Linked DNA regions of Homo sapiens: regions 2, 3 and 4 are each reported to be linked to region 1. Evidence: microRNA targets listed by miRTarBase, many of them from high-throughput screens and not tested one by one. Region 1 holds a microRNA gene; each other region holds the end of a gene's coding sequence.

Region 1 (7,852 bases):
GCCATCGACCTGATTGTGCAGCACGTGCACAGCCAGCTGGAGGAGGTGAGCGGGGTCCCACGTCCCCACGGCCTAGCCCCCAGCCCCTCTACCCACTTCTCCGCTGCCACCACCCCCAGTGGCCTGGTCACCTCATCCCCCTGCGTTCACTGTCCCCTGCCAGGTGCCAGCCCTGAGTGTCCTGAGCCTGCTTGGCCAGTCAGATTGTCCAGCCCAGACCCCATCCCGTTGTGCTGTGCAGGGCCTGGGTTCCCTGAGGAAGCTGGGGTGGGGGTACAGGTGCTCAGGACCCAGCCGAGGGTGCAGCCCGCTCAGCACACCCAGCCTGAGCTTTTGGGAAGACAGGCATGACCTGCTGGCCCAGGATTGTGGGGTTTCACTGCTGAGTCCCACGCCAGGCCAGGCTCCTCTCTTTCTCAGGGGGTCACCCCAGGAGCGACACCCCCACCAGAGGTCCCCTGCTCCCTGAGGCATTCTATGGCTGGGCCTTGGAGCCTGAGTGGCTCTGAACACACTCCCTACCAGGATGTTGAAGGCCTGAGGCCTGCAGAACAGAGCCCAGGGTCCTGGCTCTGATTGCCCCAACGCAGAACTGCAGGTCTGGCCCAGGTGGTCCCCAGGTTACAGGCATTAGAAGCTTGCCACCCCCCATGGCTGGCTGTGTCCCCGCGGGCCTGCAGCATGTCCATTCCTGGGTGGGGGTGGCCTGGCCGCCTGCCCTGGTCACTGACGCGCCACCGTTCCCTTGTGTCTTCCTGTGTTGCTGCCACAGCGTGAACTCAGCGTCAGGTAAGACTTGCACAGCTGTCTGCACAGATGGAGGCACTTCCAACACCTCCAAGGAGCTCTGGGGTCTGGGCTGTGATCCAGCCAGGCAGCTGGCTCTTCCCCAGTCACAGAAGGGGTGGTGTGGAGTGGTCCCAGCCCTGCTTCTGCCTCCCCTTGCTGGCAGATGAGGACACTGAGGCACAGAGACGTGAAGTAGCTTGCCCAGCGTCACGGAGTCCTGACCCTGTCCTGGCCAGACTTTGCTGGAGGCTCCCCTGACTCCTGAGTCTGTCTATGGGATTTGACCCCAGAGAGCACAGCTGTCCTCCTGAGCCAGCACTGCCAGGCCTCTGGGGCAGTGACTACAGACATGTCCCAGCAGCCAGGGAGCCTGCTGTACCTCCTGTGCCCAGCCTCACGGACCAGTCAGCTTTCCCTGGTTGCAGGTGGAGGGCCTCGCGCCTGTCCTCCCACCCACCCGGGTCCTGCTTGCCCCAGCTCTGTCCTCGCAGCCCGCACAGCTCTGCCAGCAGGAACTGGGCAACTGCAGCAAGAAGCTTGGGCTGGGCCGGGGCCGCATCCCACTGTCCCTCCCCAAGGGCAGGCATGCAGGGGGGTCAGCCACAAGGGACCTGCCCTTCTCCCTGCCTTCTGTGGGTTGGGAGGCTCCTGACTGAGCCACCTGGAGGGAGAGCCCTCACATTCAGAGCCCTCCAAAGAGTTTGCCAAATGTTGGAAATGCCTCCAGGGCCCGTCCACCAGCCGTCCAGCTTCCGGTGCCTGCATGAGTCTCCGCTTGGCCCTCTCCTCGGCCTAGGAACCCGCAGGTCTTGTCCCGTCAGGTTCCTCCTGAAGCTTTTGTTCTGAGAGGAAAAACTTTCCAGGGTTTCAAACTTGGAAAAACACCTGAACGCAGCCAGACACATTTTCCGTCGTCTGGTCAGCCAAGGAAGTGTTGGCCTGTGGCTGCACTCACTTCCTTCAGCCCCAGGAAGCCTTGGTCGGGGGCAGGAGGGAGGGTCAGGCAGGGCTGGGGGCCTGACCGCCCACACTCCTCCTCAGGCCTGCGGGGAACGCCCTGCTCCCCAACTAAGCAGCCTTCTCTTTGTTCTCTTCCTTCTCTCTGTAAACCCCCGTTTCCTGCCTTGTTCCCTCCCTGAACATGCTCTTCACCTGGCAAGCAGAGGAAGCTACGTTGGGATATGTGAGCAGTGTGCTCCGTGGTGCTGCTGTGTGACCCGCCTTCCCGTAGCCCCTTGCCCCGCTGCTCCCGCTAGGCCCTCTTTCCTGCTCCTGCCCCGCCCCTTTCCCTGCCGCTGTCACGCCTCTTTTCTGCCCTGCCACACCCCATTTCCGGCCCCGCCCCTTTCCCTGCCGCTGTCACGCCTCTTTTCTGCCCTGCCACACCCCATTCCCGGCCCCGCCCCTTTCCCTGCCGCTGTCACGCCTCTTTTCTGCCCTGCCACACCCCATTCCCGGCCCCGCCCCTTTCCCTGCCGCTGTCACGCCTCTTTTCTGCCCTGCCACACCCCATTCCCGGCCCCGCCCCTTTCCCTGCCGCTGTCACGCCTCTTTTCTGCCCTGCCACACCCCATTCCCGGCCCCGCCCCTTTCCCTGCCGCTGTCACGCCTCTTTTCTGCCCTGCCACACCCCATTCCCGGCCCCGCCCCTTTCCCTGCCGCTGTCACGCCTCTTTTCTGCCCTGCCACACCCAATTCCGTGCCCTGCCTCTTTCCTTCCCCTGCCACACCCAATTCTGTGGCCTGTCGCTTTCCTCTTCCTGCCCCTGCATCACCCCCTTTCCTGCCCCGCCCCATTCCCTGCCCCTGTCATGCCCCTTTCCGGCTTTGCCTCCTCCCTGTCCCACCTCTTTCTTGCCTCCACCCCGCCCTTTTCCTGCCCGCTCCTAGACCTGCTGCTGCCCCGGCCATCCCCAGGCTTGGGCAGCGGGGCGGGACGGGACAGCCAAGAGACACTGAGCCAGCTTTGCCCCCCACCCCCCTCTCTTGAGGGGCCGCGCACCACCTCGGGGAGGAGCCAGGGCGGGGCCTGACCCCACAAAGCTTTAGTTCCCCCGGGGAGAGGCTGGGGACAAGCTACCCATTCTGGGGTATGACACCTATCAGCACGTGTGAGCCCGCCCTGTGCCCGGCCCACTTCTGCTTCCTCTTAGCGCAGGAGGGGTCCCGCACTGGGAGGGGCCCTCACAGCCTACCCCGCTAGCTTTCTGCCTGATGGTGAGCTTGCCCCGTTGTTCGCCGCCATCTTTCGCCTTTGCCTGACAGCTCAGGTAGGGCGACGTCTCCCCCCAGCTCAGCCCCAGGCAGAAGTCAGGCCCGCTCTGCACCTCGTGCTGTGCCTGGCCCGTGTGTTCCCCTCACAGTGACGCACAGCCGTCCTGTGGGGAGGGAGGGCTCTGGGAAAAGACCCCCTTCTTGAGTGTTCCCCATCGGTTTGTCCCCAGGGCTGCGCTGGCCTCGGCACACCAGTGCCACCCGCTGCCCCGGACGCTGAGCGTCCTGAAGAGCACGCCGCAGGTACGGGGCATGCACACCATCATCAGGTGAGGGCCCACCTGGGGACGGGGCGGCCCCGGGCGCGTGCTCCCGCTCAACTGTTGGCCCCACAGGGACAAGGAGACCAGTCGCGACGAGTTCATCTTCTACTCCAAGAGACTGATGCGGCTGCTCATCGAGCACGCGCTCTCCTTCCTGCCCTTTCAGGTTCGTAGCCCGTAGCCCGCGAGGTGGAGGGTGGGTCTTGGAGCCGGTGCGAGCTCCCTGCGCTCACCGGAGTCCTCACCCTGCACCCCACAGGACTGCGTCGTACAGACCCCGCAGGGGCAGGACTATGCGGGCAAGTGCTATGCGGGGAAGCAGGTACCTGCCTGGGCACACCTGGGCGCGGGACAGGCTGCTGGGGCGGGATGTGGGCGCTTAGCCTCCCCTCCCCGCAGATCACCGGTGTGTCCATTCTGCGCGCCGGTGAAACCATGGAGCCCGCGCTGCGCGCTGTGTGCAAAGACGTGCGCATCGGCACCATCCTCATCCAGACCAACCAGCTTACCGGGGAGCCCGAGGTGCCTGGGGGCAGCCGGGGTGATGAGCCCGGGGGTAGGGGGCAGAGGGAGCTCACAGCAAGGGGACGCAGGGAGCCCCACCTGCAGCCTGACCCCTGCTGCCCGCAGCTCCACTACCTGAGGCTGCCCAAGGACATCAGCGATGACCACGTGATCCTCATGGACTGCACCGTGTCCACGGGCGCGGCGGCCATGATGGCAGTGCGCGTGCTCCTGGTGAGTGAGCCCTGGGTAGGCGGGGCAGGTTCAGGCAGAGGTGGGATTTACCTGCCCAATACACTCGGTAGGACCACGACGTGCCTGAGGACAAGATCTTTTTGCTGTCGCTGCTCATGGCAGAGATGGGCGTGCACTCAGTGGCCTATGCATTTCCGCGAGTGAGAATCATCACCACGGCGGTGGACAAGCGGGTCAATGACCTTTTCCGCATCATCCCAGGCATTGGTGAGGCTGCCCGGGCCCTTCAGCCGCACATGAGGGCAGGGTGGGTGGCCCTGGGAGGCCCCACCACACTGGACCCCCCCCCCCCTTTTTCCAGGGAACTTTGGCGACCGCTACTTTGGGACAGACGCGGTCCCCGATGGCAGTGACGAGGAGGAAGTGGCCTACACGGGTTAGCTGCCCAGTGAGCCATCCCGTCCCCACCACCCTCCTCCTGCCTCCTGACCCAGGACTGCTGAATACAAAGATGTTAATTTTTAAAATGTTACTAGTATAATTTATTCTATGCATTTTATAAAATAAATAAAGCTTTAGAAAAATGAAGGTGTGATTGGTTACAGCACAGGAGAGGTGTCCTGGCTGAGGCATGCATTTGTGGAGACTCCCATGGGGAGGGAGGGAGGGAGCTGAGGGCCCTGCCTTCTCCCCTGCAGGACCAAGCATTCCCAGTCTTGCACTTGTGCCAGATGAAGGAAGGGGTAGAACTGGGCCCTGCAGCTCCTAGCTCTGCTAGATGGGGCCCCTAGAACCCATAGCTTGGTGGCCACCTGGCCTGGACCTAGGGAGGGGACAGGGCCCCCTGGTGCTCTGGGTCTCACAAGAGGCAGGCTGTTTTGCCCCCACCCACAAATTTGTACCATCAGGGTCCTCCCCACAGTTGGGGGGGGGGAGGGTCCTTCCCGTCAGGACAAGTCGCTGGAGGCAGCAAAGCCAGGAGGCAGACCAGGGCGGAAGTGGGGGCCTGCGCTTGGAGGCGGGGCCACCCGGGGCCCACGAGCCCGGAGCCACTGCTGCTCAGGGCCCGCCTCGCTCACCCCTCCAGACCTGGAGGCCCACCCGCATCCCGTGCTCTCTGCCGTGCCCACGCCCGCAAGCGTGGGTTCCCTTAGGTCCTGCCCACCCTGCTTTCCGAGCAGGCCCCCCCCGGGCTCCCCGAGAGGAGTCGCCGCCGTGGTTTACTGAGGAAGAGGAGGTGCACGCGCGGCGCCCACACGTCGGGCCCCGGAGAGGCCCAGATAACTGAATCAGCCTCCCGGGGCTCAGCCGTGGAGCTGAGGGCTGATGCTGGGGACTCAGCCGTGGGCCAGGCGCATCTGACACGGGACACGGTCGTCCCCGTCCTCTCAGGCGCCAGTGTCTTTCTGCGTGGAAGTCCACGGCCAAAAGCGTGGCGTCCTCGGAGCCTGGCACCTCGATTATGCCGGATCCCGGATCCTGGACAGGGGTCTGCTGACGAAGGGAGGGACGGCGTAAGGCCGGTCTTCCCAGATGCCGCGAGACCTTGCGCTGCAGTGGGGTCTCCCATTGCCCATGCGACCAGGCCGGGTGGGCGCTGGTCCCCACGTGGGGGGCCCATCTGCGGGTGCAGCGCTCCCGCCACTCGCCCGCCCCACCGGTCCCGATTGGCCACGCCCCTGCCCAGCCCCCGCTCCGCCTGGTAGGCCAGGTCCCGCTGGGCCCCACCGAGTGACCACGCCCCTGAGCCGGCCCCGCCCCCGCGCTGGCCCCGCCCCCCACCCGACCCTGAGCAGCGGGGCTGGCGCTAGAAGTGGTCCCTTCCTGGCGTTCCTCGGTCACGGAGAGCGGGGCGCAAGGAAGGCATAGCCGGGGGGAGCGGGGAGGGTGGTCCGACCCCGTCTTGGAGACGGAGGAGATTCCTGGGGCGCTGGGCGGACGGAGAGTTTTGCCGCAGCGCCTGTTAACCGCGGTCCCCTGGACCAGGAGAAACAGGGCCGACAACCCTCCCTGGCAAGGGTCTTGCTGCCCGCCACCCAGTGTCCAGTGCTCGGCTTGCTGTTAACATTTCTCTGTAAGAATCCCATATATAAAATACTTAACATAGGCCGGGCGCGCTGCCTCACACCTGTAATCCCAGCACTTTGGGAGGCCTACATAGGTTCGAGACCAGCCTGGCCAACATGGTGAAACCCCCGTCTCTACTAAAAATACAAAAAATTAGCTGGGCGTGGTGGCGCGCCTTTAGTCCCAGCTACTCGGGAGGCTGAGGTACAAGAATCGCTTGAACGCAGGAGGCGGAAGCTGCAGTGAACCGAGATCGCGCCATTGCACACCAGCCTGGATGACAGAGCAAGACTCTGTCTCAAAGGAAAAAGAAAAAAAAAACTGAACTTAATAAACGTGGATTCTACTTAATTAAGAAAATTCAAAGACCAAGCCAGAAAAAAACGTCTGACAACGCTAAGGCTAGAAGGGGCAGCGAGAAGATGGGGAGCCTCTTTGCAGGGCAGTGTGGGGCCACCAGTCAAGGGAAGGCTTCCAGATCCCGCTCCCAGCGATCCCACCCGAGACAACTCAGCAGCGACATTCAGGCAGCTTTGTTTCCACAGTGAGAAACTAAAAACCTGTGGTCAGTTTGCCCAGGACCGACTGTGATTAATTCGTGACTGTTCTGTACAGAAGCTAAAATGAACCAGACCTAATATAACCACACGGCTTGATTTCTTAACTACTACTGTATCAAATGAAAAACTTAGGCCTGGTGCAGTGGCTCACGCCTGTAATCCCAGCACCCTGGGAGGCCGAGGCGGGCGGATTACCTGAGGTCCGGAGTTCAAGATCAGGCTGGCCAACATGGTGAAACCCCGTCTACTAAATACAAAAAGTTAGCCAGGCGTGGTGGCACATGCCTGTAATCCCAGCTACTCAGGAGGCTGAGGCACAAGAATCACTTCAACCCAGGAGATGAAGGTTGTAGTGAGCCGAGATTGTGCCACTGCACTCCAGCCTGGGCCACAAAGACTCCGTCTCAAAAACAAAAACAGGCCGGGCGCGGTGGCTCATGCCTGTAATCCCAGCACTTTGGGAGGCCGAGGTGGGCAGATCACAAGGTCAGGAGATCCGAGACCATCCTGGCTAACACGGTGAAACCCCATCTCCACTAAAAATACAAAAAATTAGCCAGGCGTGGTGGCGGGCGCCTGTAGTCCCAGCTACTCGGGAGGGTGAGGCATGCGTTTTCCTAAATGGCGTGAACCCAGGAGGCGGAGGTTGCAGTGAGCCAAGATCGCGCCACTGCACTCCAGCCTGGGTGACAGAGCGAGACTCCATCTCAAAAAAAAAAAAAACAAACAAACTCATAAGGCAGGTGGTGTACTCAGTACTATGGTGTAGTACAATTTATGTAAAAAGGTATAAACCAATAGTACGTCTTACTGGACCTGACAGTGGTAGACAGAGTTTAAAGCTATGGAAGCAGAGGATGGAAATGGGGAGAGACGCAAAACGGTCTTGGATGCTGCCATTTTTTTAAAATGGAAAATCTGACTCAAATTTTTTTTTTTTTTTGAGACGGAGTCTCGCTCTCCCACCCAGGCTGGAGAGCGGTGGCACGATCTCGGTGCGTTGCAACCTCCACCTCCCGGGTTCTAGCGATTCTCCTGCCTAAGCCTCTTGAGTAGCTGGGACTACAGGCACGCACCACCACGCTCAGCTAATTTTTTTTGTATTTTCAGTAAAGACGGGGTTTCACCATGTTGGCCAGGATGGTCTCAGATCTCCTGACCTCATGATCCACCCACCTCGGCCTCCCAAAGTGCTGGGGA
Region 2 (7,363 bases), not on the chromosome of region 1:
TCTCTGAAAGACAGTTCTCAGGATGTCATGGACAAGGGGTGGTGAGGGTGGCATTGCCCTCAGCTATTTCCTGTCTAACTGTTTTGCCATCGTTCCCACAGACATGTCAAACCGCCCTGTCTGCCGACATTTCATGATGAAGGGCAACTGCCGCTATGAGAACAACTGTGCCTTCTACCACCCGGGTGTCAATGGGCCCCCCCTGCCCTAGGGACCATTTGCCTGCCCTGTTCACACAACCCCTGTGGACTGCAGCCTCGCTCTTTCCACCCTGTTATGGCTTCTGTGAGGCCCATTTTCCCTTTTCCCCAGCTGATGAGGAGCCGGCCCCCTCAGTTCCCACTTGCTTGGGTTCCTGGGGGTTTTCTGATCACTGGTGCGCATTGATGTACATATTTTCCTCCAGTCTGGGGAGGAGAGAGACTGGAAACGTTCCTGGACTGCTGAAGAGGAGACCCAGTTGGCTTCACTTTTTGAGAAGATTCGCCCTGTACCCCAAACCCCTTTCCAGTATTACCCTTAATGCTTGAGAACCTAAAGCTGGTTATCCTGGCGAACACCCCTACCCTTCTATTGCGGGTCCCCACATGCACACAGAACTCTGACACAGGATCAGCTGCACTTAAGAAATCATCCCAGCTAAGTTCATTATTCCTCATGGGGTGGGGAGATGCTGAAAGGGGTATTGTATATCCCACTGCACTGAGAGGGCTCAATCAGCTGGATTTGAGTTCTGGAACACACATCATCCCCACCCCTCCCCCAGCGTGGGCTCACCATTCTTAGTCCTTTCTCAAGTGGGACCTTCAACTTTCTGTGAACACCCAGTCTGCGTCCTGGGTCTGCTAGGTTCGATGATGGCGAACTCGTATCTGCATCCGGTGCAAGTTTTAGCTGGCAGAGGTGAGACCGGTGGTGCTGGTCTGCCTTTGCCAACTATAGCCAGTCTGGAGACTTGATAAAATACTTCAGTGAGACCAGCTTCTCATCAACTTGGGCCCGGCGTGCTGGGCCTGAAAGTCACACTACATGCACTGCCTTTGGGAGTCAGCTCACTCCCTGCTCCCACCTGGAACCTTGCCAGCGTGAAGGAGGCTTCCAGGTACTTCACCCTGTCAACCACCTCTGAATCCCCACCAGGCGCCTTCCTGGGTGGATTCAACAAGATGATTTTGCCCTTTCCCAGTTCTCTCCTTCACTTTGGCATCAGTTGTTTTCTATGAAAACAGTGGATTGGTTGGGTTTTGTGCAGGGTCTTGGGTTAGAGCCAAAATGGATTTGAGGATGAGTATTTTTTTTTTTGGTTTTGTATATTTTGTACATTAATAATAAACAGTGGAAAGAGAAGCAGCTTATTTAACCCCTAGTGTGTTTGGACTTTTTTGAGACGGAGTCTCGCTCCGTTGCCTGGGCTAGAATGCAGTGGTGCAGTCTTGGCTTACTGCAATCTCTGCCTCCTGGGTTCAAGGGATTCTTCTGCCTCAGTCTTCTGAGTAGCTGGGATTCCAGGCACCTGCCACCATGCCTGGCTAATTTTTTTGTATTTTTAGTAGAGACTTGGTTTCACCATGTTGGCCAGGCTGGTCTGGAACTCCTGACCTCGTGATCTGCCCGCCACGGCCTCCCAAAGCGCTGGGATTACAGGCGTGAGCCACCGCGCCCGGCCTGGACTGTTTTTCATTTTTTTTTTTTTAAAAGCCATTACCACCTGTGTTAGATACATTAGTACAAATCTGTGGAATCTGATTTTTACTCCTCTGGAGCTAATGCTTGATCTAACAGTTGCTATTAAGTACTGGTGAAAAAATGCTTCAAAAAGTACATAAAATACTCTAGGATACAGAGTAGATCTCGGCCACAGGGCTCTTTCCTGGTTTTCATCTTTCTGAGTCTTCTTTAACACGCCTCGTGTGTGTTCCTAGAACAGTCCTATCCTGGCTATCGTGCCCTCTAGGATGTGTTCTTGGTCATCTTATCCACATTCTACAGATAAGGGAGGAAATCCTGAGGATGCTGGAGTCAGATAAAGGCCATTGTCCCAGCTCTACCTCTCTACAGCCTGGGTGACCTTAGCCAGGTTAGTGTTGGGTATCAGTGGCTCATGTCTGTAATCCCAGCACTTTTGGGAGGCCGAGGTGGGAAGACTACTTGAGCCCAGGAGTTTGAGACCAGCCTGAGCAACATAGGGAGACCAGGTCTGTACAAAAAATACAAAAAATATTAGGCATGGTGGCACATGCCTTTAGTTCCAGCTACCTGGGAGGCTGAGGCGAGAGGATCACTTGAGCCTGGGAGTTCAAACTCACAGCTATGATTGTACCACTGCAATCCAGCCGGAGCAACAGAGCAAGACCCTGTCTCAAAAAAAAAAAAAAAAAAAAAAAGCCAGGCATATTGGGTCATGCCTGTAATCCCATCACTTTGGGAAGGCGAGGTGGGTGGATCACCTGAGGTCAGGAGTTGGAGACCAGCCTGGCCAACATGACAAAACCCCGTCTCTACTAAAAATACAAACATTAGCTGGGTGCCTATAACCCAGCTACTCCGGAGGCTGAGGCGGGAGAATCCCTTAAACCCAGGAGGTGCAGGTTGCAGTGGGCCGAGATCATGCCACTGCACTCCAGCCTGAGTGACAGGGCAAAATTCCGTCACAAAAAAACAAAGGGTAAGTATAGACTGCTCTTCCCAAAGTGGCTCTGGCCAGGCATGGTGGCTCAAGCCAGTAATCCGAGCACTTTGGGACGCCAACATGGGAGGATCACTTGAACCCAGGAGTTCAAAACTACCCTAAGCAACATAGGGAAGCTCCATTTCCCCATTTCCGCGCCTGGCCTCCACTCTTCTTAAACCAGAAATTAAAGCTGGGCATGTTGGCTCACGCCTGTAATCCCAGCACTTTGGGAGGCCCACATGGGACGATCACTTGAACCCAGGAGTTCAAAACTACCCTAAGCAACATAGGGAAACTCCATTTCCCCATTTCCGCGCCTGGCCTCCACTCTTAAACCAGAAATTAAAGCTGGGCGTGGTGGCTCACGCCTGTAATCCCAGCACCTTGGGAGGCCGAAGCAGTTGGATCACCTGAGGTCAGAAGTTCGAGACCAGCCTGGCCAACATGAAGAAACCCCATCTCTACTAAAAATACAAAAATTAGCTGGGTGTGGTTACTGGCGCCTGTTATCCCAGCTACTCGGAAGGCAGGAGAATCGCTTGAACCCAGGAGGCAGAGGTTGCAGACTGCACCACTGCACTCCAGCCTGGGCAACAAGAGTGAAACTCCATCTGAAAAAAAAAAGAAAGGATACATCACTCTGGGGGGAGTGTGTGTGGCAGATATGGGGCAGTTGAAGATATTAACATGTTTTAACATGTGGGTTGAGAATGGCGGTTTTCAAGTCTGTTAGCATTCATCAGGATCATCTGAAGAGCTTATTAGAAAACAAATCTGGGGCCGGGTGCAGTGGCTCATACCTGTAAACCCAGCACTTTGGGAGGCCAAGGCGGGTAGATCAGGAGGTCAGGAGTTCGAGACCAGCCTGACCAACATGGAGAACCCCCGTCTCCACTAAAAATACAAAAATTAGCCGGGCGTGGTGGCGCATGCCTGTAATCCCAGCTACTCGGGAGGCCGAGGCAGGAGAATTGCTTGAACCCGGGAGGTGGAGGTCGTGGTGAGCCGAGATCGCACCATTGCACTCCAGTCTGGGTAACAAGAGCGAAACTTGGTCTCAAAAAAAAAAAAAAAAAAAAGAAAGAAAAAAAAAAACAAATTTGGGTTGGATGCAGTGGCTTATGCCTGTAATCCCAGCACTTTGAGAGGCCAAGGCGGATGGATCACCTGAGGTGAGGAGTTTGTGACCAGCCTGGCCAACATGGTGAAATCCCATCTCTACTAAAAATACAAAAATTAGTCAGGCATGGTGGCTCGCGCCTGTAATCCCAGCTACTTGGGAGACTAAAGCAGGAGAATCACTTGAACCCGGGAAGTGGAGGTTGCAGTGAGCAGAGATCACACCACTGCACTTCAGCTTGGGTGACAGAGCCAGACTCCATCTCCATCTCAAAAAACAAAAACAAAACAAAAAGAAAAAACAGACAGATTGGGGGTAGGGTCCAGCAAAATTCTGATTTAGTAGGTCAGGATGGATCCCGAGATATGCATTTCTAACAAATTCCCAGTTGCTGAGGCTGCTACACTGCCCTGGAATACGTGTCTCAGCTGTATTTCCAGCATTGGCCACATGAGGGGGCAACAATGTTTTATCAGTATCTGAAAGGCCTCACTGCATGTAGGCCCAAAGTGGGTAGTTTTACCTTCCCCTTGCCCAGGCTTGGTGTGTGTGGGCGGAGGTGTTCAGGTCAGTCTGTTGTTGCTGTGTGCACTGGGAGAAGACCTGAGAAGACATAATCTAAGGACCAGGCTAGGGCGTGAAATACCAAAGAAGTATACAGCTCAAGTGAAAAAACCCAAACATGTCACAACCTAGTGGTCACAACTTTGTGTCTCTTTCTGCTTCCATTTACTGCCTGCTTCTCACCTTTCTTCTATCTCCTGCAACAAGCCACAAGAACCTTAAAAGAGAGCTTAAAGTTTTTACTGTATTTTAAGAATAAGCTCGGCCGAGCGCGGTGGCTCACACCTGTAATCCCAACACTCTGGGAGGCCGAGGCGGGCAAATCCCAAGGTCAGGAGATGGAGACCATCCTAGCCAACATGGTGAAACCCCGTCTCTATTAAAAATACAAAAATTGCCAGGCGCGGTGGCTCACGCCTGTAATCCCAGCACTTTGGGAGGCCGAAGCGGGCAGATCATGAGGTCAGGAGATGGAGACCATCCTGGCTAACAAGGTGAAACCCCTTCTCTACTAAAAATACAAAAACTTAGGTGGGTGTGGTGGCGGGTGCCTGTAATCCCAGCTACTGAGGAGACTGAGGCAGGAGAATGGCATGAACCCGGGAGGTGGAGCTTGCAGCGAGCAGAGATCGCGCCACTGCACTCCAGCCTGGGCGACAGAGCAAGACTCTGTCTCAAAAAAAAAAAAAAATTAGCCGGGAGTGGTGGCACGCACCTGTAGTCCCAGCTACTTGGGAGGCTGAGGCAGGGGAATCGCTTGAATCCAGGAGGCAGAGGTTGCAGTGAGCCGAGATAACGCTACTGCATTCCAGGATGGCGACAGAGCAAGACTCCGTCTGAAAAAAAAAGAAAGAATGAGCTCATTTTCTTTCAAATCATTTATGAAAATTCGGCCAGGCGTGGTGGCTCACGCCTGTAATCCCAGCACTTTGGGAGGCCGAGGCGCGTGGATCACCTGAGATCAGGAGTTCGAGAGCAACCTGACCAACATGGTGAAACCGTCTCTACTAAAAATACAAAAAATTAGCCGGGCGTGGTGACTGGTGCCTGTAATCCCAGCTACTCTGGAGGCTGAGGCAGAAGAATCGTTTGAACCCAGGAGGCGGAGGTTGCAGTGAGCTGAGATCGTGCCATTGCACTCCAGCCTGGGTGACAGCAAAATTTCATCTCAAAAAAAAAAAAAAAAAAAATTCAAAGAAACCTGTTTTTTTTTTTTAGACAAGTTTCACTCTTTTGCCCAGGCTGGAGTGAAATGGCACGATCTTGGCTCACTGCCCCCTGGGTTCAAGGATTCTCCTGCCTCAGCCTCCTGAGTAGCTGGGATTGTAGGCACCTGCCACCACGCCTGGCTAATTTCTGTATTTTTAGTAGAGATGGGGTTTTACCATGTTGTCCAGGCTGGTCTCGAACTCCTGACCTCAGGTGATCCACCCGCCTTGGCCTCCCAAAGTGCTGGGATTACAGGTGTGAGTCACGGCACCCGGCCTACCTGTTCCTTTTTACTTACGTAAAAACTTTAGATTATATAAAGAGAAGATTTTCCTTGTTTTTTGTTTTTTTGCAGGGGGAGAGAGGTTGAACATTTCATTCATTTCACTACAATGATGTTTCTTCACCAAGCCCTCCCTGCAGGCACTTTTCTCTCTACCGTTTCAGTCTGTTTTTCCTTTCTGCTTCCATTTTTTCCCTCTAAAATACCCTTGTGACATTCAACGTTCTCTTTCTGTCAATCCTTCCCCAGGTGCAACGGGGTCTATCTTCAATTCAGAATCATTATCCTATTTCTTTCATTCCTACTCCTGGGCAGTAGACCTAATGTTGAAAAATCACAAAATCCTACTATCTTAGCCCAGTACAAATTAATGTTAGCATTGATTCTACACTTACTGCTGCTCAGCAAACCTTTTTTTTTTTTTGAGACGAAGTTTTGCTCTTGTTGCCCAGGCTGGAGTCCAATGGCATGATCTCCGCTCACTGCAACCTCCACCTCCCAGGTTCAAGTAATTCTCCTGCCTCAGCTTCCTGAGTAGCTGGGATTACAAATGCGTGCCACTACTCCTGGCTAATTTTTGCATTTTTAGTAGAGACGGTGTTTTGCCAAGTTGGTCAGGCTGGTCTCGAACTCCTGACCTCAGGTGATCCGCCTGCCTCGGCCTCCCAAAGTGCTGGGATTACAGGCATGAGGCACCGTGCGCGGCCTACTCTTCTTGATTCTCTGGCACCAAAGCTTGGGAAAAAGTGAGTCCCATCCACTGTGAGCAACATTTTCCCTTCCCTTCACATGGAAATATCTGAGTCTACATTATCTCCCTTCCATTCCATTCTTAGATGAAGAGAATCTTCTTTCCAAAGTAATATTGAGCTGTTCTCCTGGCATCTCTTTTCCCTGTCTCCCCACACCCACTATTTGCCACCTAGCAGCCAGGAGCAATTTTGTAAAAATGAAAACTGAATCAGTTTGCACTCCTGGCTAAACAGAACCAATGGCCTCCCATTGCTCAGCCTCTCCTGATCACATCCCAACCTGCTGTCTATGCATATAAGGCCCCGTGTGTATTGGCGCATGCTCAAGTTCTCAGCTCCAGCCATTCCTTGACCATGTTCAGCTCTTTTCAGCCTCAGGGTCTTTGCACATTTTGGTCCCTTCCCTGAAGGCTCTTCCTTTCCTACCTTCAGGCTTTGGCTTTAATGAGGCTGAGGTGGGAGGATAACTTGAACCCAGGAGTCTGAGACCAGCCCGGGCAACAAAGCAAGACCTCTTTGCTACAAAAAAATTAAAAAATTGGCTGGGCATGTTGGTGGACACTTGTAGTCCCAGCTACTTGAGAAGCTGAGGTAGGAGGATCACTTGAGTCCAGAGGGTTGAGGCTGCAGTGAGCCATGATTGTGCCACTGCACTCCAGCCTGGGAAACAGAGGGAGACCACATCTCAAAACAACAAAAAACACATTTCTACGATGTTTACTGTGTACCACATATGTGCATCACTTGTAGGTAATAAGCTGTTT
Region 3 (7,849 bases), not on the chromosome of region 1:
ATTTTTTTAATTAATTGTAAAGACTTGTGCCATTGGCTGCTCTTTCTAGTCCCCTAAATTTCTGTTCTAGTTTTAAATTTCTCTAGAACTTGCAATAGTTGGGGGTTTTATAATGATGTTTTACAATGTTTATTTCTTAAATAAAAACTTAAAAATTCAACATTTCTCAGCTGGTGGCTCACACCTGTAATCCCAGCATTTTGGGAGGCCAAGGCGGGAGGATCACTTGAGGCCAGGAGTTCAAGACCAGCCTGGGCAACACAGTTAAACCCCATCGCCACAGAAAATCTTCAAAAAATTTGCCAGATATGGTGGCACACAACTGTGATCCCAGCTACTTGGGGTGGGGCTGAGGTGGGAAGATCACTTGAGCCCAGGAGGTTGAGGCTGCAGTGAACTGTGATCACACCACTGCACCACAGCCTAGGCAACAGCGAGACCTTGTCTCAAAAATTTTTTCTCAAATCAAACATCATTGAAAATCTACTTTTTATAAGCTTCAAATCACAACATCTAGTATGTATGCTGACAGTGATGTTTTTAAATGCCATATATATTTAATAAGTATAATGTAGAGGTTTATTGTTTAAATGAATTCACTCTCAAAATGTGATCTGTCAAGTCCAGTAGAGCTTCAAGGTAAAATGAAAATTTTTAAATGTGATCTGGTTATCTGCTTACTGAGATACTATGTTTCTAAAGTTAAAGCCCAAAATAATGAAAATTTTTCCACTAGAATCTCAGGGAAAAAAAGTCTAATCTTGATATGGGTTTGGTCTCTGGATCCGGTTTTAGCTTCATGAAATTTGATTACAGTTTCTCTCTCTTTAAGCTATACCAGTTGGGGGTGAGTGAAGAAATACCCATAACCTAAAGCAATCTTGAGCCTCCTAATAGCATGTTTATGGTGGAGCGCTGATTAAATAAGCTGTAATTTCAAAGTTAAAAAAAAAATAGTCTCTAGATTCTAACACTGAAAAGCAGTGTATATGGCTGACATTTTCTCACTCCACAGAAATCAATTAGCTTTTGCTGTTTTTTACATTCATAGAGAACCAGTTAAATTTTCATATCCTGTTAAACTATATCAGTATGCCTTTTCTAAGCAACCATTGAAACTTCCAGCACCAGCGGCCAGGTACTGTGGCTCAGATCTGCAATCCCAGCACTTTGGGAGGCCACAGCAGGTGGACCGCTTGAGCCCAGGAGTTTGAAACCAGCATAGACAAAGTGGTGAAACTCCATCTCTACAAAAAACACACACACAAAAAATTAGCTGGGCATGGTGGCATATGCCTGTAGTCCTAGCTACTAGGGAGGCTGAGGCAGGGTCAAAGCTGAAGTGAGCCGTGATTGCACCACTGCACTCCTGGCTGGGTGACAGAGCAAGACTCTGTCAAAAAAGGAAAAGAAAAAAAGAAACTTCCAGCACCACTAAATTTGCCAAATAAATTTGACTGATGCCAAAACTGAAGCTGCCAATGTAATGAAATGTTAAGGTGGCCATAGGACAGTCCTTTTAATAAAAGCTTCCATGTAAAACCAAAATAAAGGTCAGTATAGAAAGTATCATGGGGTATATAACAAACTGAATTTTTGGCTTCCAATCCAAACTGGGCTAAATGGTATGTTTATTTTAAACAAGGAATTTGCCATGGACAAGATCTATCTGGCTTACTGTGAGTTAGAAGTACGCCCTGCCGTAACACTGGTATTTCCACATAGTATGGAAGAGGAAGAGAGGAAAACTTAATTAAGTGTTGCAAAATTGTTTGAGGACCTATTTTGGTCCATTCCTTATCAACTCCATGTGTGATTTCAAGTTATCTAAAGGGCATGTGACTTTATTTCTGACTAACATCAAGTTCCTCTCCTCATCATAACAAGGCGATTCAAACCTAAACTGTGATTCTTAGGAGATGCTTCCAAGGGGAAGCTCCCTCGTTGGACATCCAGAAGATTGCATTTTCTCTTCAGAGTACAATTTTCCATCTGTCAGAGCATGTCTGAATAAAAATTTGAACCTACTACAAACTACATTAGAATAATTTTCAAGTATTTTTCTGTCACAAAAATGGTGTGACAGAATGTGTTGAAAAACACAAAGTTCACAGCTGAGATTAATTTAGATAACCTAGTGGTTAATATGCTCATGAACATCAGCAACAACCGTGCATTCCTTGGCAGATGGGATGCGATGGAAACCAAAGGTTTCCTTAAGGCAAGCACTTCACAACTAGTTTTCTGTCAATTCTTGCGTAAATCACATTCTGTATTCATACAAAAACTTTGTTTTTCTCTGACAAACTGTACACATAGAAACAAATTTCCAAATGGACAGGAACTTAAATTTGTGGAGATGCCCCATGTCTTGTGAGACTTAAAAAAAAGAAAAAGATCCCAGCTTTTATCTTCACAAAACAACATGGGAGTTGGGGCAATGAGGGTGGACAGGACAGGGCCAGCCAGGCTGGTAGCTGGCAGCAGTCTCTTCATCTTGAAGACCTCATTGAGGGTTCCTGGGATTCAGGTGCCCAGAAAAGAGTTCAGGGCTACAATGGTGCAGGCTTCCTTTTGTTTCTCTTGGTGAGTCCACAAGAAGTTCTTACATACTGTCCAGAGAGGCCTCAGGGTACTCAGTTCCAGCTTCTACCGACCCCTTCCACCACCCCGTGAAGCTCCTCGCCTCGGCGGGCCAGAGTTCATGTTACTCCCTCTACCCCAGTTACTGCCACTCCGGCCCCCTCGAGAAGGGGTGCCACTGCCTGGAGGGCCCCCAAAAGGTTCATCTCTGTGGTATCCATCGTGGTGCTCTCCGTCTAAGGAGCTGGAACGCCCAGATTTGGGCACTCTCTGAGCAGGTCCTGGGCCCCCTCGGCCTGAAACAAAGAAAATTTCACATGGGACTTTTTGTATTAGCAACTGTTTGTCAGTAACTCCCAGTACAAACTTTACTCTCTGATGACAATGGACCAGTTCTGGTGGGTGCCAGGGAGACTGGCAGTGGTATTCAGCGTACTGAGAGGTGTGCCTCTACCCTTTCCTGACCCTGCCTCCCCCTTCCTGGCTCATGGCCATGGGCCTCAGCATCAGCCAGATCCATGCCCCCAGGGCTGTGTGACAGACGACAGGAAGCCAAGAGATGAGCAAGGAGCACCTTCAGGGAGACCCGGGCCACACTGGGCCATGTCCCAGGCCATGGGAAGTGTATCTGCCTGCTCCCAGCCACCAGGGTATATTGAGGGAAGGTTTGAATATACTGACTTAACTTTGGAAGTACACACTGCTAATGTTAATAAAAAGTGCTCCAACTAGGACAAGCGTTCACTGGGACTGTCCCGTGACATGTGGCACTTTTGGCTTCCTTTTCATAATTAGTAAAATAAAGTATTTCTTGAAAAAACAAAAGAAAAGCACAAAAACCCAAAAACCCCACAAAACACTGGCTTTCAGGTTCTATCACCGAGGCACAGCTTAACCTGCTTCAGACTAGTATGCACAAATGTTTAGGTACTATTAAAATTCTTTCATTCTGTTGCAGCTTGAGAATATATTTAAAAAAAAAAAAAAAAGAAAAAAAAGAAAGGAAAAGGAAAAAAAATTCTATCTTGTAAGATTTTTTTCCTCAGGAAATGATAGGATTTGGTCACATCTCCCATAATGCACTCTCAGAAGATGACTGCAAACTCTCCGCTGTCTCATATTTTGTAATAGAATATGAATCTAGCTGAGATGAAGTTAGGAGAGCCAGCCAAAGGAACAATCTTGGCTTCTTTTCTTAGAAAGTGCAGCTTCAACCCACCTGAGGCACCTGGGCAGAGTGTCAGCTACTACATCATTCCCATGCTAACTGCATGTCCTTGACCAGAGGGACCTAATAATGGTGTGCTGAGTGCCCAAGAAAGTCAGCCAAGGTCACAGCACACTGGCTAGTAGTACAATGTGTTTATGCAGGGTGATCTATTGATGATACATAAGGTAATTTCTGAGGGTTTTGTTGAGACAAACAACTATCAAGATCAAATGGCAGGCCAGGCATGGTGGCTCATGAGAGGCCAAGGCAGGTGGATCACTTGAGGCCAGGAGTTCGAGACCAGCCTAGCCAACATGGCAAAAGCCCATCTCTCTAAAAACACAAAAGCATGGTGGCGCACACCTGTAGTTCCAGCTACTGGGGAGACTGAGGCACAAGAATCACTTGAACCTGGGAGGCGGGGGTTGCTTGCAGTAAGCCAAGATCACACCACTGCACTCCAGCCTGGGCGACAGAAAAAAACCCAAAAAGACCAAATGGCAGAACTCTGTACTGGAAGGACCGTCCATACAGACAGGCCAACTTCAGGAGCAGAGCACAAGCTGGGGCATGCGGGGAGCAGCCTTCCCAGAAGCTTCCGAGCCACACCACCTATGCACCTCCCCCGCTGCCTTGCAACCAGAGTTGTATAGTCAGCCTTCAGAGGCAACTACTCCTGGCTAAAGTTAGTGCTGCCTATAACATAAAGCTCCACAGTTCCCAGTTGAGGAGATAATCTACTGTGCCCCTGGAAACACTGCCCATAGACCATGTTTCCCAAAGTCTCTGTGACTTTGAGCACAAGCAGTGTTCCTCTAGACCCAGGCTAAAAAAACCAACAGACCACCCAGGAGAGGACAACTCTTCCCCTCCCACTGAGAGCCCTTGAGGGTTCCAAGCAGCCTTGTGGAGGGCAGACTGCCAAGGAGAGCAGGGCTCCCAGACAGCAAGCCGAGCAGAGAGTGCTGGGGCATCTTGGCAGAGGGCTGAAGTGAAAACCTCAAGTGAACAGGGATTCCCGGAGGCAAGTGGAGTCCTGTGCAGGGCTGAGTTGCAGTCCACCAGATGACAGCTCGTGTGGCACTGGCACCACATTTAGGAGCATGTGCCTCTGCACAGCCCAGGCTGCAAGGGCATGTGCAGCAGATACAGGCAAGGCCTCCATCGGCCCCTGCATCTCCTGGAACCATAACCACTGGCCTGCTCTTACCTTTGCCTCCTCGGTCTTCAGAAGGGCCTCCTGGGGCCTCCATCTCTCTGTGCTCAGAAGTGCCTGGGCCATCATGCCAGGGGCGCTTTCGGGGAGGTAGGGATGCCATGTCCATGCCTTGGAGAGAAGAGGAGCGTTCTCTGCTGGCTGGGGAATGACCGTCGTGAGGGGGATGATCAGGGCGGGGAGTATCACGAAAATGTTCATGACCTGGCCCTGAAACAAGAAACAAATCTCCTTACAGGAAAGCACAGTGTGACCAGAAGTAGATGGGAATGACACTGTGAGAGTAAGGAGCAACTCGAGAGCCACCGTTCACTCATGCTGAATGCCCGCCAGAGGCCAAAGGGTAAGCCACCCAGACATCAGGGTGCCTCCTCATGTAAGAGGGGCAGGTAAGATCCAGAGAACTCGTTCTCAGGCATTGTAGTATCAAGACGTCTTTACAGTCTCAAATTACTGAGGACTCCTAAGAGATTTTGTTAATGAGAGTTGTAACTGCGAATATTTACCATATTAGCAATTGAGACTGGGGAAATTTTAATTCACTTAACTTTATTCTCCAAAAGCAATTTAGTGGAAAGAGCAGTCCCGTTTTATACTCAGATAGATCCCTGTAATGTCTGGCGGATTCCTCTGCTCTGCATTCCACCTGCTGAGATCAAGTGCTGCGGCTGCAGGACAGGAGACAGCCCAGCCCCCCGGGAGACATGAGCTGGAAAGAGGAGACCCGGTGCACCCCAGAGAGGGCCCTCAGAACTCACTTTGTGAACTGCAGTCTAGAGTTACCCAACAAGCGGTTCTTTTCCTTACCAGGCTCTCTGTTTCCATCCCAGGAATCTGGCTTCCGCCCTCCTTCAAAGCGAGGGAACTCGTCAGGAGTGGGAAGTAAACCCTTCCTTCCTCCTACACAACAGAGCAAACAATGCTGCACTCAGACTGTTCCTGGTGTATTCACAACCAGTGTATTCTGCACCCTATCCTTCCAGACCAGGTGTCTTTAGTAACTCGCTCACCTCGTGGGGTACCCCGACCTCGACCTCTGAGATCTCGTCCTCGGGCCGCTTCCTCAGAAGCATCAAAATTCTCCTCTGGACCAAAGTCTTCAGGACCAGGAAAACCATCCCTTCCTCTGGGGGGAGCACGGCCCTCATGCCTCGGCGGGGCTCCTCTTCTGAAACTGTAAAGAGAAAACAGCAGAATGTCCATCTCAGAGAACACCTTGCCACTCTAAGTTCATGTTTCAAAGAAGCATATGATATGAGAAAGCATGATACAATGTTAATTGGGAGGAAAACAAAATAAAACTATATATTTTTGAAAGGATACATTATATAATCCTATTAATACTATCAGAGGCAAAAACAGACCAGAAGGAAACACACCAGAGTGTGGAGTTACTTTAAGCTTCTTTTAGGCTTTTAGGTATATACAAGTATTACTTCATTTCATTCATTTCATTTTCACAGCCACCATATGAAGCTGGTATTATCAGCAGTTCCACTGATGAGAACACTGAGGCCCAGATTGCTGACATCATTTATTCAAGGACACAGAGTAAGTGCTGGTGATCTGAACTCAGCCAGTCTTGACCCTCGGCCCAGGTTCTGTATCACTGCCTCACAAATACTTATCATTATCATCTACATTTGTATGATGAACATTTATGACATATAATCAGAAAAATGGGGGCACAGATCGTGTCTGCCAACCATACTGGACCTGTCTGTAGGTAGGGGCTCTGCCATCTGCCCCAGCCCACAGCCTCCACCCAGGGGCAGGCCTCCATGACCACGAGTGGCACTCATGGCCCGAGTCCACAGCTGATGGGCACACAGGTCAGCATCTGGTTTACAGGCAGCGATCCACTGGCTAGCTGGCAGTCTGGAGCCCTGCTTAGTGAACAGCTTCCCCTTCTCTCAGGAATTTTGGAGCCAGGAGACTACACTGACTGGGAGTATTGCTGAGGCAGAGAGGGTACCAGGAGGTCTGTGCGAAAGAAGAGAAAGTGACCTTCTGGCAGCGCTCACTGAGAGGCGGTGGCGCCACCCTGCAGGGCCCCTCTGCATGAGCTGCATGGCCTCCTCCCAGGCCAGGCCTCTGCTCTTCCTCAGGTTTCCATTCCATTGCCTTTATCCTAATCTTCTACTTGGAAGATTTTCAAACTTACAGTAAAGCTGAAAGAACAGTACAATGAACATCCCAGATCCTCCACCCAGATCAATCCCTTCTTAATATTTTGCCACACGTGCTTTATCTTCTCCGTCCAGCTACTCACAAACATGTTTTCTAAACCATTTGAAAATCAGTTGCCAACACGAGCTTTACCCCTAAATCCTTCAGTCCATTTCTTCTAAGAACAAGAACTTTCTCCTATATAATCACAATACCTTTACACTCTCACACACCAGCCTAGGCTATGGGTCTGCACTGACAGATGAAACACAATACAAATCAAGACAGGATGGCCGGGCACAGTGGCTCACACCTGTAATCCCAGCACTTTGGGAGGCCGAGGCAGGCAGATCACTTGAGGCCAGGAGTTCGAGACCAGCCTGGCCAACATGGCTAAACCCCATCTTTACTAAAAATACAAAAATTAGCTGGGCGTGGTGGCGCGTGCCTGTAATCCCAGCTACTCGGGAGGCTGAAGCACAAGAATCGCTTGAACCCAGGAGGTGGAGGCTGCAGTGAGCCGAGATCATGCCACTGCACTCCAGCCTGAGCGACAAAGCAAGATTCCCTCTCAAAAAAAAAAAAAAAAAAAGACAAGGTAAAATGTAACATTTTGCACAAGATGCAGAGATTCAATAAGTCAGTGAACATTACGCAGATGTAAAGCTCTT
Region 4 (7,852 bases), not on the chromosome of region 1:
CCACCCTCTGCTTGCATACCTCCTGTGACGGGGAGCTCACTATCCGTGCTGGTTTCCTAGGGCTGTGCTAACCATGCACCACAAACTGGGGGGTGTGAAATGGGAGAAGTTTATTCCACGAGGCCGTGGAGCTGGGCGTGTTCAGGGCTGGGTCCTCCTGGAGGCTCTTCCAGCCCTCAGTTTCCCGGGCTGGCGGCTCCTCCCGTGGCCTCTCTGCTGCACCCGCCTTTTCCTCTTCTGTGGTTTATAAGGACACTGGTTGTTGGATGTAGGGCCCAGTCTAAAAGATAATCCCTCCCCCCTTCTCAGGACGTGGGACCTGCCTTAACCCAGGATGAGCCATCTCAAGATCCTTTCCCTAATTACATCAAAGCAAAAGCCCCTTTTCCAAATGAGCGCGCGTTCACAGGTTGGGTTAGGGTGTGGGTAGAGCCTTTTCCAGGACACAGCAGAACCCACTGCATCCCCAGCAGGACAGGTGCTCCTGTGTGGGTTGGCCCTGCCTTAGGCTGGGCTGATACAGGCCTCTCTGCACGGGCGCTTGGCTGTCTCAGAAAAATTCCAGCCCCTCACGGCCCTCCCCAAAAGGCGGCCTGAGCGCCTTGAGGGCCACGTCTGTGGCAGCCCCATCTGTGTACCCAGGGTTGAGAGTAGTGCAGGGCATACAGGAGGGTGCTCTGTAAATAACACAGAATGGAAAAAGGAGGGAGGAGAGCGGCTCTCCCCATGGGTACAGTGGGATGATAGCAGCTCCAGTGCCAGGGCTGCCCTGAGGCGCATTAGCATCACCTGCCTGGCTCAGGTGGTCGCAGGCCGCAGCACCTGCCGCCAGGAGGCTGACAAGCACTCTTACTGTTGGGAGACAGGGCGGCGGCAGTGGGGCAGGGGTGTTTGTCTTTTCTCCAGAGTCCACTCAGCCATTCTTCTGGGGACAAAAACTCAAGACCCCCCGCAATCTCTGCATGCCAAGCACAGCCTGGGGGTAGGGGGCTGGGCCCCTCCCTGGCTCCGGAGTCTCTGGGGGCCTCCCCTGGGTTGAGACCTACGAAGCAGCCCCGGGGTCCCTTCTGCCACAGAGAGGGGCCCAGGGGAGCCTCATTGGAAACGTCCCGAGGGGCCTGCAGCTGGGTGCTCAAGATGTTTTGTGGAAACCCTGACGAGTCACCGGGCTCAGCATGGCCGGGCCTGGCCTCCCCAGTGCTCTGCCCAACCTGCCCAGCTGCGGCTTGGGGCTAGGGCTGCAGGCCAGGCCGGGTGGGGAATCTTGAGGAGGGGAGGAGGGTGCCTTCGTGCAGGGTTAGGGAACGCACAGTGTTGGGAGGGAAAGACAAATTGATGTCAGTCCTCGTCCTCTGCTGGGAGTCCTTGTGCAGTGCACGACCTGCTCAACCATACCCAAGAAAGAGAGGAAGGGGGAGGGAATAGGAGCCAGAGGGAATGGAGGAAAACGCCAGGAAAAGACGGGGAGAGCGAGAAGCCCCCCACCTCGGCCTAGTGCCCTCGTCCCCCATCCCCCGGTGGAGCCAGTGACCCTCCCTCCTGGCATGGGGAACAGGTCTGTCCACACGTGGGTCACACACGCCGTTCCCTCGGGCAGGACCTGGTCGGCCTGATGAGGGCAGCCAGTGCCTGAGGAGGTAAATGGCCGAGTGGAAAAGTTCGGCAGGAGGGAGTGAGCAGAAGAAGCCGGAGCCCTCGGGCACAGGAGTGTCCTCCCCGGCCTCCCTCCCTCGGCTGGGCGCCCCCGCATCCTGCGCCCCGCCCAGGGGAGGATGGAAGAAGGCAGCCCCACCGCGGACTCCGCTCCGCCCCCGCCTCCTTCCTCCTCCGACCCGGGGCTGCCTTCTCCCCAGCGGCCGCCGCCCCATCTCCCGCTTTGCTCTGGTTCTGAGGTGGGACGGCCGGACTCCCAGGCACAGGCTGCACCGCGAGAACGGCGCCAGGGACCCGGCCAGCGCCGCGCGTCTCCCCACCTTCCGCGTGTTCTCAGCGCTGTCCCGGGGGTCGCAGGGCCAGGAAGACACGCCCGGGGGGACCTGCGGGACCTGCGGACTGGGCGGGGCCCGGGGTCCTGTGGGCGCAGAGGACGGGAGGACGAAGGGCGGCCTGCGCTCCTGCGGGTGGCTGAGGCAAGCGCAGAAATACCGGGTTGGGCAAGACTGGAAAAGCGGCGGCAGGAAGGCTGGAGGGCGACCCGGAGGCGGAGGCCCAGACAGGCCGAGCGGCTCTCAAACCACAACCCGGGCCCGCCCCCAGCAGACCACGCCCCCGGACCCTGGTCCGGAGATGCGGAACGAGGGGCTTCAGACAAACGCAGGGCCGGGCGGGTCAGAGGCAGCGCGGGGGACGCCCCCCAGACGCAGCGAAGGACGGACCCACGGTCAGGAGCCCTTCAGCGCCCTGAGCGGGCCTGCGGGAAGAGGGGTGAGGCAGGGAGGGCACTGGACAGGGCGGAAGGAAGCGCTCTCTGCAGGGTCTCCCCCCTACATCAAGGCGCAGGTGCACAGTGGGTCACGCGCTGCCGGCTGCCCACAACGCAGGTGTGTCCAGCCGAGGGCACTGCTGGCGGGGGTGCAAAATCGTCATGGGACGTTGGCTGGGACAGCAGAGGGCCCCTCCCTGCGGCGCGGCCGCCCCCACCCCCTCATGGGTTTTCCCCGGCAGGAGTGGTCTCGTGTGTCTCGGCCTTTTCCCCATCTGTGGATCCCTCTAGGGCCACCGCCTCCAAGCAGGGTCTACGTCTGCCTGCCCACCCAAAGCCCAGCCGAACGGGTGGGTGGAAGCGTGGCTGTGGGGGAGGAGCTGCGGGCAGAGGGCAGAGGCCCTGGGGCACCCCCTGGGAGGGGCTGGCGGGCGGATGCCGTTGCCAGAATCCCACACAGGCTTTCTAGTCACTGCATGGGGAGCGAGGAGAACGTGAGTGCCAACCACCTGGAGCAGGACGTCCCTGGAGGGCGTGGACGCCCATCGATGCCTGTCACACAGCAAGGCCGTCCTTCCCAGCTGCCTGACCAAACATCCTCTCCACTAGACCACATGGGGGCAGTCACCCTCCTAGGACAGGCCCCTCTGCACCAGTGTCCAAGAGCCAGAGGGATGGGTAGCCACACCTGGGGTCCACTGCCACCCGGTGCGAGTTCAAACCCAGCTCCAGACTGAGGTGCCTAGGGCTGTGGCCGGGGGCTGAGCAGCCGCAGAGGGGACCTCGCCTGGTCCCAGTCCACAGGTGAGCTGTGGTGGGTTCACCTGTCTGCTCCTGGCCGTTGAGCTGTGGTGGGCTCACCTGTCCGCTCCTGGCCGTAAAGAGACAGTCACTGCAGATGCTAGCTTGAGGTGCCCCACACTGGGGGCACAGAGCGCCATTTCCTGGCCTCCAGCCCTCATGGTGCAGCTCACAAATGACAGGCTGCAGGCTGGCACCCAGGGTGGCCTGGACTCCAGCTCTGTGGCCTTGAAGGCCACCCTTTTCAGAGAATGGGAATTCCCTTGCACCTGGCTTTGACCTGATGGCAAATCGGATAAGCCTCAAAAAACTGTGGCCGGACGCGGTGGCTCACGCCTGTCATCCCAGCACTTTGAGAGGCCGAGACGGGTGGATCACGAGGTCAGGAGATCGAGACCATCCTGGCTAACATGGTGAAACCCCGTCTCTACTAAAAATACAAAAAATTAGCTGGGCGTAGTGGCGGCCGCCTGTAGTCCCAGCTACTCGGGAGGCTGAGGCAGGAGAATGGTGTGAACCCGGGTGGCGGAGCTTGCAGTGAGCCGAGATCGTGCCACTGCCCTCCAGCCTGGGCGACAGAGTGAGACTCAGTCTCAGGAAAAAAAAAAAAAAAAAAAGAAAAGAAAAAATTGCTGAGACACATGATCCAGGCCGCTGGGACACAAGATGAACTGCATGGCCTGCGCTATCGGAGGGAGGTGGACATAAAATGGGAAACAGTCCCCTCAGGAGTGCACAGGCGGTCCCCCTGTGGTGCTCGCTCACGCCCAGCTCCTCTGCCTACACTCTAATTGTCATTTAATCCAGGGGAAGAGTGGCATGGACGCAGGTCATGCTGGGAGCAGAAGCACGGGATGCTGCCTCCCTGGGGCTCAGCTCGCGGCCCCGTGGGAGGGAGCTCTCTCTTGGAGGTCTCATCCTGAACCTCGGGTCAGGAAGTAGATGAGGGAGATGGGTGGGCCGCAGGCCTGGGCACCACACCGCGGCTACCTGAATCTGATTAAAGGAGGCGCTGGAGGCCCTGGAGCGTGCACCTGGGAGGCCGCTGCCCAGGCGCAGGCCTGTGGCTTTCAAGGTGGAAAGCAGGGAGCAGCAGCGGTGGGTCCTGGGGGGCTCTGCCGGTGGCCCCTGCTGTGGAACGTGGCATCACACGCGGGGCCTGGCTCAGCAGGTCTGGGGCCTGCACACGGAGCCGGTGGTGGTCACTGCAGTGGTGGCAGCTGGGCTTGGGGCTGGGAGTCAGCCCTGGACCTCTTCCCCTCCAGCAGCTCCACGGCCCCTGCAGGGAAAGTACCTCCACCTCACGGACCAAGGAAGCCCCAACCCAGCCCCACGAATGGGGAAACTGAGGCGCAATGCTCTCCTGGGCTGGGTCTGAAGGCAGGAGCTGCTCCACAGCCGGTCCTCCCGGGGGGAGTGAGTGCACAGCCACACCCTCGCCCCCCAGCGGCTCCCGAGTGCTGGGCCGAGTGCAGTGCACGACACAGAGGCAGCCCCGGCTGCGCATGGGCAGAGGGCGCACACACCACGAGGGCAAGGACAGCTGCTTATCAAAATATTTTATTTTAGGAGACCCCTCAAAAAAAGACCCACCACATTAGACAGACGCCCCAACAACACCCTTGGCCTTTTTTTGGTCTTTTCTGTATTTTTTCCTTTTTAAATCAACTAAAACAATTTGATGCTTAAAATAAAAGACAGGAAATATTTCCTGATGAGACTTTAGTCGAGAATATAGATATATTTCTGATCCGGGGGCGGGTGATCAGGGGCGGGGGAGGAGAAGGATGTGCCACCAGTGGTTCGCGAGGTTCCGTTTCTCAGCTCAGGAGGGAGCCTGGCTGCCTGGACCCGGGCTAGGGACCCAGAGCTGGGGCTCCACAGGCCTGACCAGGGCCAGGGAAGAAGACGGAGGAGGAGGAAGAGAAGGCGGGGCTGGCGGCTGGGGCTTGTAATTTACATGAGAACCGTGCTGGTCACTAGCGCTGTCTGTGTCTGTCTGTCCTGCGGGACTTCTGCTCTGGGGAGGGAGGCTGGGATTCAGCGTCGTTGTCATTTCCTGTGTGGCTTCTTTTCCAGCTGAGAAACTTTTTTTTCTTTTTTACTTTTTAAAAAGAATCACAGCCAAAATAAGACATTAACTGCAAAATCCAAAATGGCTGCGCTTACCCTATGTATAAAAATGCGTCCAGTCCGGTCGGGGCACGGCCTATGCTTTCCCGGGGATCTTGGCCCGCTTGCGTGCAATAGCATCCTCCACGGCCTTCAGCTGTTTCAGCAGCTCCTCCCGCCGAGACAGCGTGCTGGCCTTCCCTGATTTGGTGCTGGCGGCGCCGGGATCCGAGGCTTTGCCGGGCACGCTCGTGACCTTGCTGGAGCTCTTGGACTGGGGTGACAGCTGGCGCTTCCTACAAGGGGGTGGGGAAGACCTTGAGCCCCCAGAAGCCACGTCTGCAGGTGGAAGGGGTGACCTCCCCGTAGGGGCGCTTCCACTGTGTCCTCAGCGGCCACCAGGACAGGCAAGGGGCTCCCTGGATGGCCAGGCTCCCACTGCCACAAGCAGGCCTGGTCCTAGCCACTGGCTCCCGGGCTTTGTGGAGCAGACTGGGAGGGTCCTGGGCTGGCCCCGCACAACCTCCTGTTATTCTTCCCACCTCTGTGCCCAGGGATCTTTTGCCCAAGGGCATGCGGAGCAGAGGGCACCCTCCAGCCTCAACCAGGGCAGGAGCGTGTGTGTGTGTGTGGGGGGGGGTGGGGGGTGGGGCTGCAATTCGCTGTCCATGCCCCTCACCCCGTCAGACCAGCAGGAGCTGTAGTGACGCCTCCAGCCTGGCCCAGTGCTAGCCCTGCTGCTGCTGGCCTCCCTGGGGAAGCGACTGGGGCTGGCCCCCTCGGTGTGCCCAGGGCACATGCTGGGTGGGACTCACCTGTCAGCCGGGGCTGCAGGGGCTTTGGAGTTCTGGCCTCTCTGCCGCTCTGGCTTCGGGGAGCCCAGTCTCCCACCTGACTTCCGGTCCCGAGAACCTGGGTGATAGGTACAGAGTGAGACCACCCTCCTGATGTACAGGGAATGGCTGTGTGGGTGGCCTCACCGATGCCAGGGACTCACTTCTAAAGCCTGAGGCTGCTTAGTTCACCACCTTCATTTTTATAAAGAAATAAAAAGGGGAGAGCCAAGTAGGAGAAGAGAGATGTGGGCACCAAGGCATCTGGAAATGAGGCTGAGGCCAAACCTGGGCCCCAGGTTCCAGCAAGCAGCCAATATCTCACGCAGAGAGACAAAACTCCTTCCTAGCTTTGAAGAAATTTATCACATGGGTCTTCAAATACGGAACAACAAGAAAGACATGGCAGTAAAGAAATACAAGCAAAGCCGAGAGACTAGGAGTGTTTCACTCTGGCAATGTTAGGAGGGAGGCGCGGCAACCGAGGGGGGGGCCACTGCCCAGCGCAGGCCCAAGGCTGGTGCGAGAACAAAGGTCCGCAGGACCCCAGAGGCCCTGGTTCCAACCCCAGGCAAGGGCAGCAAGGCTGTTCCAGACCAGCCACACAGGGCACAGGCCCTGGGCTTAGGGACAAAGGTGAGCAGCTTCCTCTTCCTGTGTCCGACAAACCCAGAGAACTGCTTGGGAAGGGGTCTGGAAGCCCCCTGCCTGTTCTCTGTGTCTGGGAGTGTCTGTGCGGGTGGCCAGGCCCCCTTGTCCTCTATCTGGTTTGAGCTCCACCCATCAAAGCCAGCCAGGACAATCTCCCTGTCTTTCCATCTGGGCCCCAGCTCTTGGGGTGTGGTCAGCATGGCTGGGGGTCCCCGAGGCCCTTTCAGGTCTGTGTGGTTCAACAGTAATATAGACACTATCTGCCTCGTCACTCAGTCCGCAGGAGCCTGGGAGGATCTCCAGAAGGCACGAGGCATGTGGGTCCAGCCGTCTTCCGTCAGCCAGACTGAAGAGATTTGCAAAAATGGAAAAACCAATGCCATTCCTGCTCATTTGTTTTGGAAAATATATTTTGCAAAAATGGCACATGTGTAAAAAAAAATACAGTTGCTCTTGTTGCCCAAGCTGCAGTGCAATGGTGCAATCTCAGCTCACTGCAACCTCTGCCTCCCAGGTTCAAGCGATTCTCCTGCCTCAGCCTCCCAAGTAGCTGGGATTACAGACGCACGCCACTACGCCCAACTAATTTTTTGTATTTTTAGTAGAAACAGGGTTTCACCATGTTAGCCAGGCTGGTCTCAAACTCCTGACCTCAGATGATCTGCCCACCTTGGCCTCCCAAAGTGCTGGGATTACAGGCATGAGCTACCGCGCCCGGCCTAATTTTTGTATTTTTAGTAGAGACAGGGTTTTACCAGGTTGGCCAGGCCGGTCTGGAACTCCTGACCTCAAGTGATCTGCCGGCCTCAGCCTCCCAAAGTGCTGGGATTATAGGCGTGAGCCACCACGCCCGGTCCTGTTATTTTTAAACAAATATTTAAAACCTTTTCTTCGTTTTAGTTTTCAACACCCTAAATACCGACAGGCATCATCTGCAAGTCAGATGTTCTCTGGACCCTCCTCCTACTTGTTAAGAGCAATGGGGTCTCAGACCCAGCTGCTCCGCATCCCCAGGCTCCCGTCCCTCTGCCCT

What was found. The annotated mature microRNA hsa-miR-1914-3p reads GGAGGGGUCCCGCACUGGGAGG and lies in region 1 at 2,947-2,968, shown strand. An mRNA with a match to its seed (bases 2 to 7 or 8) in the 3' UTR can be bound and repressed. Matches are read on the target gene's strand: a 7mer-m8 pairs with bases 2 to 8, a 7mer-A1 pairs with bases 2 to 7 and ends in A, and an 8mer does both.
Region 2: the mRNA of PPP1R10 is a reported target of hsa-miR-1914-3p. Seed matches in the 3' UTR shown: 7mer-A1 at 329-335 and 7mer-m8 at 754-760.
Region 3: miRTarBase lists WDR33 as a target of hsa-miR-1914-3p. The part of its 3' UTR that is shown has no 7-base or 8-base seed match.
Region 4: miRTarBase lists ZC3H18 as a target of hsa-miR-1914-3p. The part of its 3' UTR that is shown has no 7-base or 8-base seed match.

The regions. Positions count from the first base shown.
Region 1 is chr20:63,936,590-63,944,441 of GRCh38, reverse strand. It overlaps MIR1914 (microRNA 1914), which reads left to right and starts at 2,898; the gene lies at 2,898-2,977. It overlaps UCKL1 (uridine-cytidine kinase 1 like 1), which reads left to right. Exons shown (of 15, transcript NM_017859.4): 7 at 1-45; 8 at 773-789; 9 at 3,234-3,332; 10 at 3,399-3,492; 11 at 3,586-3,648; 12 at 3,726-3,848; 13 at 3,957-4,064; 14 at 4,136-4,292; 15 at 4,387-4,613. The coding sequence ends at 4,466. MIR647 (microRNA 647) reads left to right here and starts at 1,716; the gene lies at 1,716-1,811. RefSeq lists enhancers at 699-1,410, 1,411-2,124.
Region 2 is chr6:30,594,397-30,601,759 of GRCh38, reverse strand. It overlaps PPP1R10 (protein phosphatase 1 regulatory subunit 10), which reads left to right. Exons shown (of 20, transcript NM_002714.4): 20 at 102-1,347. The coding sequence ends at 211. Among named protein-coding and RNA genes, the nearest start is that of MIR877, 14 kb to the right of the region's middle.
Region 3 is chr2:127,703,674-127,711,522 of GRCh38, forward strand. WDR33 (WD repeat domain 33) reads right to left here. Exons shown (of 22, transcript NM_018383.5): 19 at 6,020-6,183; 20 at 5,817-5,909; 21 at 5,004-5,219; 22 at 1-2,879. The coding sequence ends at 2,650. It overlaps SFT2D3 (SFT2 domain containing 3), which reads left to right. Exons shown (of 1, transcript NM_032740.4): 1 at 1-1,569. Among named protein-coding and RNA genes, the nearest start is that of SFT2D3, 6.1 kb to the left of the region's middle.
Region 4 is chr16:88,628,880-88,636,731 of GRCh38, reverse strand. ZC3H18 (zinc finger CCCH-type containing 18) reads right to left here. Exons shown (of 18, transcript NM_144604.4): 17 at 6,151-6,247; 18 at 4,768-5,631. The coding sequence ends at 5,433. It overlaps LOC124903755 (a long non-coding RNA gene), which reads right to left and starts at 1,724. Exons shown (of 2, transcript XR_007065181.1): 1 at 20-1,724. RefSeq lists silencers at 1,660-1,819, 2,040-2,119, 2,160-2,219, 2,320-2,369 and enhancers at 1,029-1,958, 3,230-3,299, 7,707-7,852.